2 linked regions of the Homo sapiens genome follow. The protein of the gene in region 2 binds, or shares a complex with, the protein of the main gene of each other region. Each region holds a gene or a part of one and is shown on either strand. Other genes may lie near its edges.

Region 1 (3,750 bases), on a different chromosome or scaffold from region 2:
TGGAGTGCAGTGGCACGATCTCATCTCACTACAACCTCCGCCTCCTGGGTTCGAGCAATTCTCGTGCCTCAGCCTTTCAAGTAGCTGAGATTACAGGTGAGCGCCACCATGCCCGGCTGATTTTTGTATTTTTGGTGGAGGTGGGGTTTCACCATGTTGGCCAGGATGGTCTCAAACTCCTGGCCTCAAGTGATCCATCCGCCTTGGCCCCCCGAAGTGCTGGGTTTGCAGGTGTGAGCCACCACGCCCAGCCCCTGGAAATTCATTTCTTATCTTTCCTATATATATCCATACATTCTAACCTTGTTTTTGAAATTATACATGAATTCAGAACATTTGATATCATCTTTCATCTTAATTGCTCATTTGTTCCTTAATGAAAATAATAGTATTTTTCAGTTAAGTTGTCAGAAAACATGAAGGCTTCATCCTTTAAAAAACTACAGAAGGTGAGTCAAACTTATGATACTTGGGATCCTTGGTTTTATAAGGGAACGACCTATCTTAGGAAAGTCCTACTTGGAGCACTTGAGACTTTCCCAACATATCACTAGTAAAGCTCTTAAATTGAAATGTTCCATGCTATAAATATTGAACACACTAATCTTTAAAAGTGATTTATTTGATACAGCCTTTAGAAAGTAAAAATTACAACTTTTGCTCATATTACCAAAATCTGTAAACTGCTAGAGTAAGAGTTTTTTGTTTATGTAAAACTCTCTTATTGAAAAGCTTTCATGACCAAACATTCTAGGTAGAATCTTAATTTGTAAAACTTACGTTATTTGAGAGGCGGTAGGTACTAAGTGATTTCACAAGAACTTCAATAACATGATATATGCTATGAAGGAAAAATACAGGTTGCCATGAGAAGCTTTGTAGTGCCACCAGCTTTTTAAGTCTGTAGTGTTTCCTGAAAAAGTGAGCTTGAAGCTGAGGCCTGATTGTTGACTAACAGTGATTTCCACACCTGGTTGCATGTCAGAGTTATCTTGGGGAGCTTTTAAGAAGATGTATCTCTAGTTTCCACTTCTGGAAATTTGACCTAGGAGCTCTTAAGTAGCGTCCAGGATTCAATTTTAAAAAGGAAAAGCACTTGGATAATTTTGATGTAGTTAGTCAAACACTTGAGAGCTGCTGAGCTAGTCAAAGAGGAAGAGGAAAGTGCATTCCAAGTAGAGAAAACAGTATGTGCAGTCTCTGAGAGCAGGCAACTGAAAGGATACAAAAAGGCAGACATATAGGTTAGGAATGAAACATTTAGGAGAGGTGGGGAAAGTTGTGAATTAAGACCAGAGAGGTAGGAGGGGGCTTGATTAACTTAAGCCTTCAGGTGACAGGAAAGAGTTTAGACCTTAGTTTCAATTGTGTTTTATTTTTGAATAATGGGATAACACAGTTAAATGAATGCTTCAAAAGAATACTGGGAAGATAAAAAGGCACCTTGGGAAGCGGTCAATATTGTGTGAGAGGGGCCAGATAGGAGGCTATAATAGTAGTTCTAAAAGAGATGGTATTTTGGACTCGGTAGTGACAGTGGAAATGGAAAAAATGGATTTATGAAAGATACAGGAAGTAGAATCAATAGGACTTGGTAATTGACTAGCTATTGAAATTGAAGAAGTAAAAAAATCACCATCTTTCAGATGTCTGACATCAACATCTTTGTGGGTGATGGTACCAATTAATGAAATGGGCAACAATGCAGAGGAGGGGGATTGGGGGAAGATAATGAGTTGGGTTTTGGACATAGTGAGGTTGAGGTACTTGTGAGACAGTCATGGTCAGTTTAAAGGAAGAGTCTAGACTGGAAATAGAATTGGGAATTTGTTAAGTATACAGACAGTACATGAAACATTGTAGGAAGAAAGAATGAAAGGAAAAGAGCACCTATGAAGAGTTTTGGGGCACCTCCTAAAACTAAAGGTCTGGTAGTGGAAACTCAGAAGTAATTGCCAGTTAAAAAAAAAAAGGCAAACCACAAGCCTGTCATAAAAGTGGTATCACAAAAATTGAAAGAGTGTTTCCAGGAGGGACTGCTCAGCTATGGCAAAAGGCTGCAAAGTGTTCATTGGAAGACAGCCACATAGACATCAGGGAGTCATGGAGCCAGTGCATTGGTGGGCCCGGGAGCCAGAATGGATTAGGAAATGAGAGGGAGACAATAGCTTGTTGTCAGCATATGGCTACTAGTTGTAGAAACCTTGGCAAGTACTCAGGGGATTGACTGCTTCTGGCGTGCCTGGAGCTGTTGAGCCCAGAAAGAAACAATGCTGAAAAGGGATTCTCATCTTGTGACCTGAAAAAAAAATGCTGGTAATAGCCACTTAAATTCATCAGAATCCCTTAAATCACTTAAATTTCTCAGAATTATTTATTTGGGGGCTTATTGTTTAGTTTTTTGGGTTTTTGCTTTTTAATTACAGATACTAACTTGAGTACATTCTACCTCTCCCGGTTTCCATACCCCCTGCTATGTTGAGATTCAGCCCTCCTTACCCAGCCTGCGTTATTGTGAAGTTTGTAGACCAGTGCTCTCCACTTGAACTTTTTGTAGTGATGGGAATCCCTGCCCAGTAAAGTAGCTCTTAGCCACATGTAGCTATTGAGCACGTGAAGTGTGGCTCATGTGACTCAGGAACTGAATTTTTAAACATTAATTAATGTAAATATAAGCCACCTGTGGCTGGTGGCTGCCATATTGAACAATGTAGATCTAGACAATATTTTTGAGATGATGGGCTGTGAAGGGAAGATGAGTAATAAGGTGATATCTAGAGAGGGATTCAGAGATCTTATTATAAGTCATATATTACAGTTTTGAAATCCTCGTGTGTTTTATGTAGAAGAACTATGATACAATATGCTCTTTACATCTCATTATTTGAGAAATGTCCTCTTTAACCCCAATTATAGGATGGGTATAGTTTCTGTATATCCTTCATTACTTTGTGTGTTCAGAAGATACCCTTTTGATCCTTTATTAAAGACTTGAAACAACTAGTATGCGAATGCTTTATTTTGAATTTTAATGCTGTGTTTTTTAATAGTTTTATTTTTCTTACGGCAGTTCTGTTGAGTGGAAATGTTAAATAATCTATTTCTAAAGAGAAATGATATTGAATTGGTCTTGATTTTTTAATATGCATGTAATGCTTATTGTGTGCCAAAGTACAAGTGCCTTATATACATCACTTTTTTGATCATCACACAAACATGTGAGATAGATACTCTATTCTCTACATTTTACAGATAAGGAAACTAAGGTAAACTAACACAGGAATAGAAAACCAAACACCACATGTTCTCACTCGTAAGTGAGAGTTGAACAGTGAGAACACATGGACACAGGGAGGGAAACATCACATACCTGGGCCTGTCGGGGGATGGGGGGAAGGGGAGGGAGAGCAATAGGGCAAATACCCGATGCATACGGGGCTTAAAACCTAGATGATGGGTTGATAGGTGCAGCAAACCACCATGGCACATGTGTACCTATGTAACAAACCTGCACGTTCTGCACATGTATCCCAGAACTTAAGGTAAAAAAAAAAAAAAAAAAAAAAAAGAAACCTAAGTTAGTAAGAAATTAAGTCTCTACCCAGGGATATGTAGTAGAAAGTGGTAGGATTGGGGTTTGAACCCAGGCAGTTTTGACTCTATCATGTAGCTTCTTAATGATTATATTATACTGTCCCCCAAGTTGTATACTAATTGCTTCTATTATGTTTCCAGTTTTATATAGACCCA
Region 2 (3,750 bases):
CTGCCTTTGCAAAGGCCATAACTAAGTAATCCAGAAAAAGAAATGCAGGCGGAGAATAGCAGCCTCCCTCTGCCAAGTAAGAGGAACCGGCCTAAAGGACATTTTCTCTCTCTCTCCTCCCCTCTCATCGGGTGAATAGTGAGCTGCTCCGGCAAAAAGAAACCGGAAATGCTGCTGCAAGAGGCAGAAATGTAAATGTGGAGCCAAACAATAACAGGGCTGCCGGGCCTCTCAGATTGCGACGGTCCTCCTCGGCCTGGCGGGCAAACCCCTGGTTTAGCACTTCTCACTTCCACGACTGACAGCCTTCAATTGGATTTTCTCCATCTAGCGGAGCCGGGGGCTGCCTGGAAAGATCGCTCCAGGAAGGACAAAGGTCCGGAAGTTGTGGGACCTTAGCAGCTTGGGCTCCCCGGATCACCCCCAAATGATCATTTCGGAATGGAGCCCCAGTTTTCACTAGGATGCCATGGGCTCTAAAATATACAGCTATGAGTTCTCAATGTTTCGAGATCCAAAAGTCTCAGACCTCAATGCTTTGTGCATCTTTTATTTCAGGGATTCCCTACGCCCAGCACCGGGTGGATGTGCAAAGAAGTACGCTTTAGGCCGGCTCAAGGTTCCCCAAAGCTCCACTCCTCTGCCTAGGCGTTCAACTTTGAGTTCGGATGGTCCTAACATCCCCATCATCTACACCCAGGTCTCCCAACAATGCAACTCCTATGATGATCCCTCTAGCCAAGCTTCCATCCCACTCACCCCCAAACTCGCTAAGTCCCCACTGCCCCACCCCCAGCCCCAGCGATTTTCCCGAGCTGAAAATACACGGAGCCGAGAGCCCGTGACTCAGAGAGGACTCATCAAGTTCAGTCAGGAGCTTACCCAATCCAGGGAAGCGTGTCACCGTCGTGGAAAGCACGCTCCCAGCCCGAACGCAAAGTGTCCCCGGAGCCCAGCAGCTACCTGCTCCCTGGACGGTGGCTCTAGACTTTTGAGAAGCTCAAAACTTTTAGCGCCAGTCTTGAGCACATGGGAGGGGAAAACCCCAATCCCATCAACCCCTGCGAGGCTCCTGGCACAAAGCTGGACAGTCGCCATGACAAGTAAGGGCAAGTAATCCGCCTGCCGGAGGAAGCAAAGGAAATGGAGTTGGGGAGGAGGGTGCAGAGTCAGGATTCTCGCCGACCTGGTGCCGTAGATACTAACATTTTGGGGTGGAAAATTCTGCAAGCCAGAGCTGTGAGGGCAGAATTGGTGGAAATCATTTTGGAGGAATCCTGCATTGTGTCAAATATGAAGGGTGGAAGGAAGAAAGCTTTTGCGTTTGCTCTCAGCTGGATCCTTTCTTCTCATCAGTTAAAATGTCATTTTTTAGGAAGGCTTTCCGTAATATCACACCCTAACGTTTTCTCCCAGATACTTTATATCACACCATCTTATTTAATCTCCTTCACAACCCTTATCACTCTGATAAGATTTATTTGTTCATTGCTTTCAGTACATGGAAACGTAAGCCTTATGAGGATATAGAATTTTTCTACTATCTTATTCATTGTTGTATTCCTGAGTGCCTATATCAGTGCTGGGTAGCAAGTAAGAGCTCGATAATAAATATTTTTTGAATGAGGGAGACAGGTCTGAAGCCTGGAGAATGAGATGCAGAAGAGGTGCAAGACCTGCTGCGCCCTCTGCAGGCGGCGGGGGGGCGGTGCAGGTGCTTTAAGAATTACCGCGGGACTCGGTAGGGGGAGCGTAGGCGCTTCTCGCCAAGATAGAAGCGTTCAGACTACAACTCCCAGCAGCCACGAGGAGCCCTAGGGCTTGATGGGAACGGGAAACCTTCTAACCTTTCACGTCCCGGCTCCGCGGGTTCCGTGGGTCGCCCGCGAAATCTGATCCGGGATGCGGCGGCCCAATCGGAAGGTGGACCGAAATCCCGCGACAGCAAGAGGCCCGTAGCGACCCGCGGTGCTAAGGAACACAGTGCTTTCAAAAGAATTGGCGTCCGCTGTTCGCCTCTCCTCCCGGGAGTCTTCTGCCTACTCCCAGAAGAGGAGGGAAGCACAGGTGGGTTTCTTTAGCTCTGCGTCGGATCCCTGAGAACTTCGAAGCCATCCTGGCTGAGGCTAATCTCCGCTGTGCTTCCTCTGCAGTATGAAGACTTTGGAGACTCAACCGTTAGCTCCGGACTGCTGTCCTTCAGACCAGGACCCAGCTCCAGCCCATCCTTCTCCCCACGCTTCCCCGATGAATAAAAATGCGGACTCTGAACTGATGCCACCGCCTCCCGAAAGGGGGGATCCGCCCCGGTTGTCCCCAGATCCTGTGGCTGGCTCAGCTGTGTCCCAGGAGCTACGGGAGGGGGACCCAGTTTCTCTCTCCACTCCCCTGGAAACAGAGTTTGGTTCCCCTAGTGAGTTGAGTCCTCGAATCGAGGAGCAAGAACTTTCTGAAAATACAAGCCTTCCTGCAGAAGAAGCAAACGGGAGCCTTTCTGAAGAAGAAGCGAACGGGCCAGAGTTGGGGTCTGGAAAAGCCATGGAAGATACCTCTGGGGAACCCGCTGCAGAGGACGAGGGAGACACGTAAGTGGTGATGGCAGTGGAGTGTGGAGTCTGGGGAGATGAAGTGTGAGGTCGATCTGTCCTCTGGTCCTGAGACCCACTTCTCCAGGCCTCTGCCCCCTTTGCTTGGCGACCCAGGTTTATTGTCCCCCATCTTCCTTTCAGCGCTTGGAACTACAGCTTCTCCCAGCTGCCTCGATTTCTCAGTGGTTCCTGGTCAGAGTTCAGCACCCAACCTGAGAACTTCTTGAAAGGCTGTAAGTGGTAAGGATAACAACGGGGCAGGGAGCTGACCACCCCCGAGATTTTCACTGTAAAACAGTCCAGTTTTCTAGGAGAGGGATGCCCCAGAGCTGGGAGAAGCGGCACGTAGCCCTTTTAGACTGAGCTTACATTTTATCTAGCAGTTTGTGTCTTCTACTTCCCTCAAGGATTCAGGGGGGCTTACCTACCCCAGAGGCAGGCTCAGCCCTAGCCCTACACTTGAAAAGCATAGGTCTGGCCAGCTTTCTAACTCTCCCCTGTTTCTAGGGCTCCTGACGGTTCCTGCATCTTGACCAATAGTGCTGATAACATCTTGCGAATTTATAACCTGCCCCCAGAGCTGTACCATGAGGGGGAGCAGGTGGAATATGCAGAAATGGTAAGGACTGGGGCTAACTGCCTCTTCATCAATGCTGCACATTTAAGTCCTTCGTGGAGATGGAAAAAGTGTAGTCCAAGTGTTTCCTGTTCACAAACGGGACTGTTTTTCAAGACGAGTTTCCACATGTAGCGTTTTCTGCCCCGAATTCTGAAGTTATTTAGAGAGAGGTTTCCCCTTTCTTTAATTAGGAATCTGTGTTTTTTGCTAAAAAGTAGTGAATTTCTTGTGGCAGCATATATATATTTCTATTTCTTATTTTTTTGAGACAAGGTCTTGCTCTGTCACCCAGGCTGGAGTGCTGTGGTGTGATCTCGGCTCACTGCAACCTCTGCCTCCCGGGTTCAAGCGATTCTCCTGCCTCAGCCTCACAAGTAGCTGGTATTACAGGCGCACGCCATCACACTCGACTAATTTTTATAGTTTTAGTAGAGACGGGGTTTCGCCATGTTGGGCAGGCTGATATCAAATTCCTGACCTCAGAGGATCCGCCCACCTTGGCCTCCCAAAGTGCGGGGATCACAGGTGTGAGTCACCGTGCCT

The links.
Region 1: WRAP53 (region 2) and GAR1 share a complex: the UniProt entries of both Homo sapiens proteins name them as parts of the telomerase holoenzyme complex.

The regions. Positions count from the first base shown.
Region 1 is NC_000004.12:109,818,612-109,822,361, forward strand, and holds part of GAR1 (H/ACA ribonucleoprotein complex subunit 1), read left to right. Parts: intron 1-389; coding exon 390-449; intron 450-3,735; coding exon 3,736-3,750. UniProt on the Homo sapiens protein: Required for ribosome biogenesis and telomere maintenance. Part of the H/ACA small nucleolar ribonucleoprotein (H/ACA snoRNP) complex, which catalyzes pseudouridylation of rRNA.
Region 2 is NC_000017.11:7,686,495-7,690,244, forward strand, and holds the start of WRAP53 (telomerase Cajal body protein 1), read left to right. Parts: upstream 1-1,982; 5' UTR 1,983-2,067; exon of another isoform or gene 2,068-2,153; 5' UTR 2,154-2,154; coding exon 2,155-2,585; intron 2,586-2,729; coding exon 2,730-2,828; intron 2,829-3,095; coding exon 3,096-3,207; intron 3,208-3,750. UniProt on the Homo sapiens protein: RNA chaperone that plays a key role in telomere maintenance and RNA localization to Cajal bodies. Specifically recognizes and binds the Cajal body box (CAB box) present in both small Cajal body RNAs (scaRNAs) and telomerase RNA template component (TERC).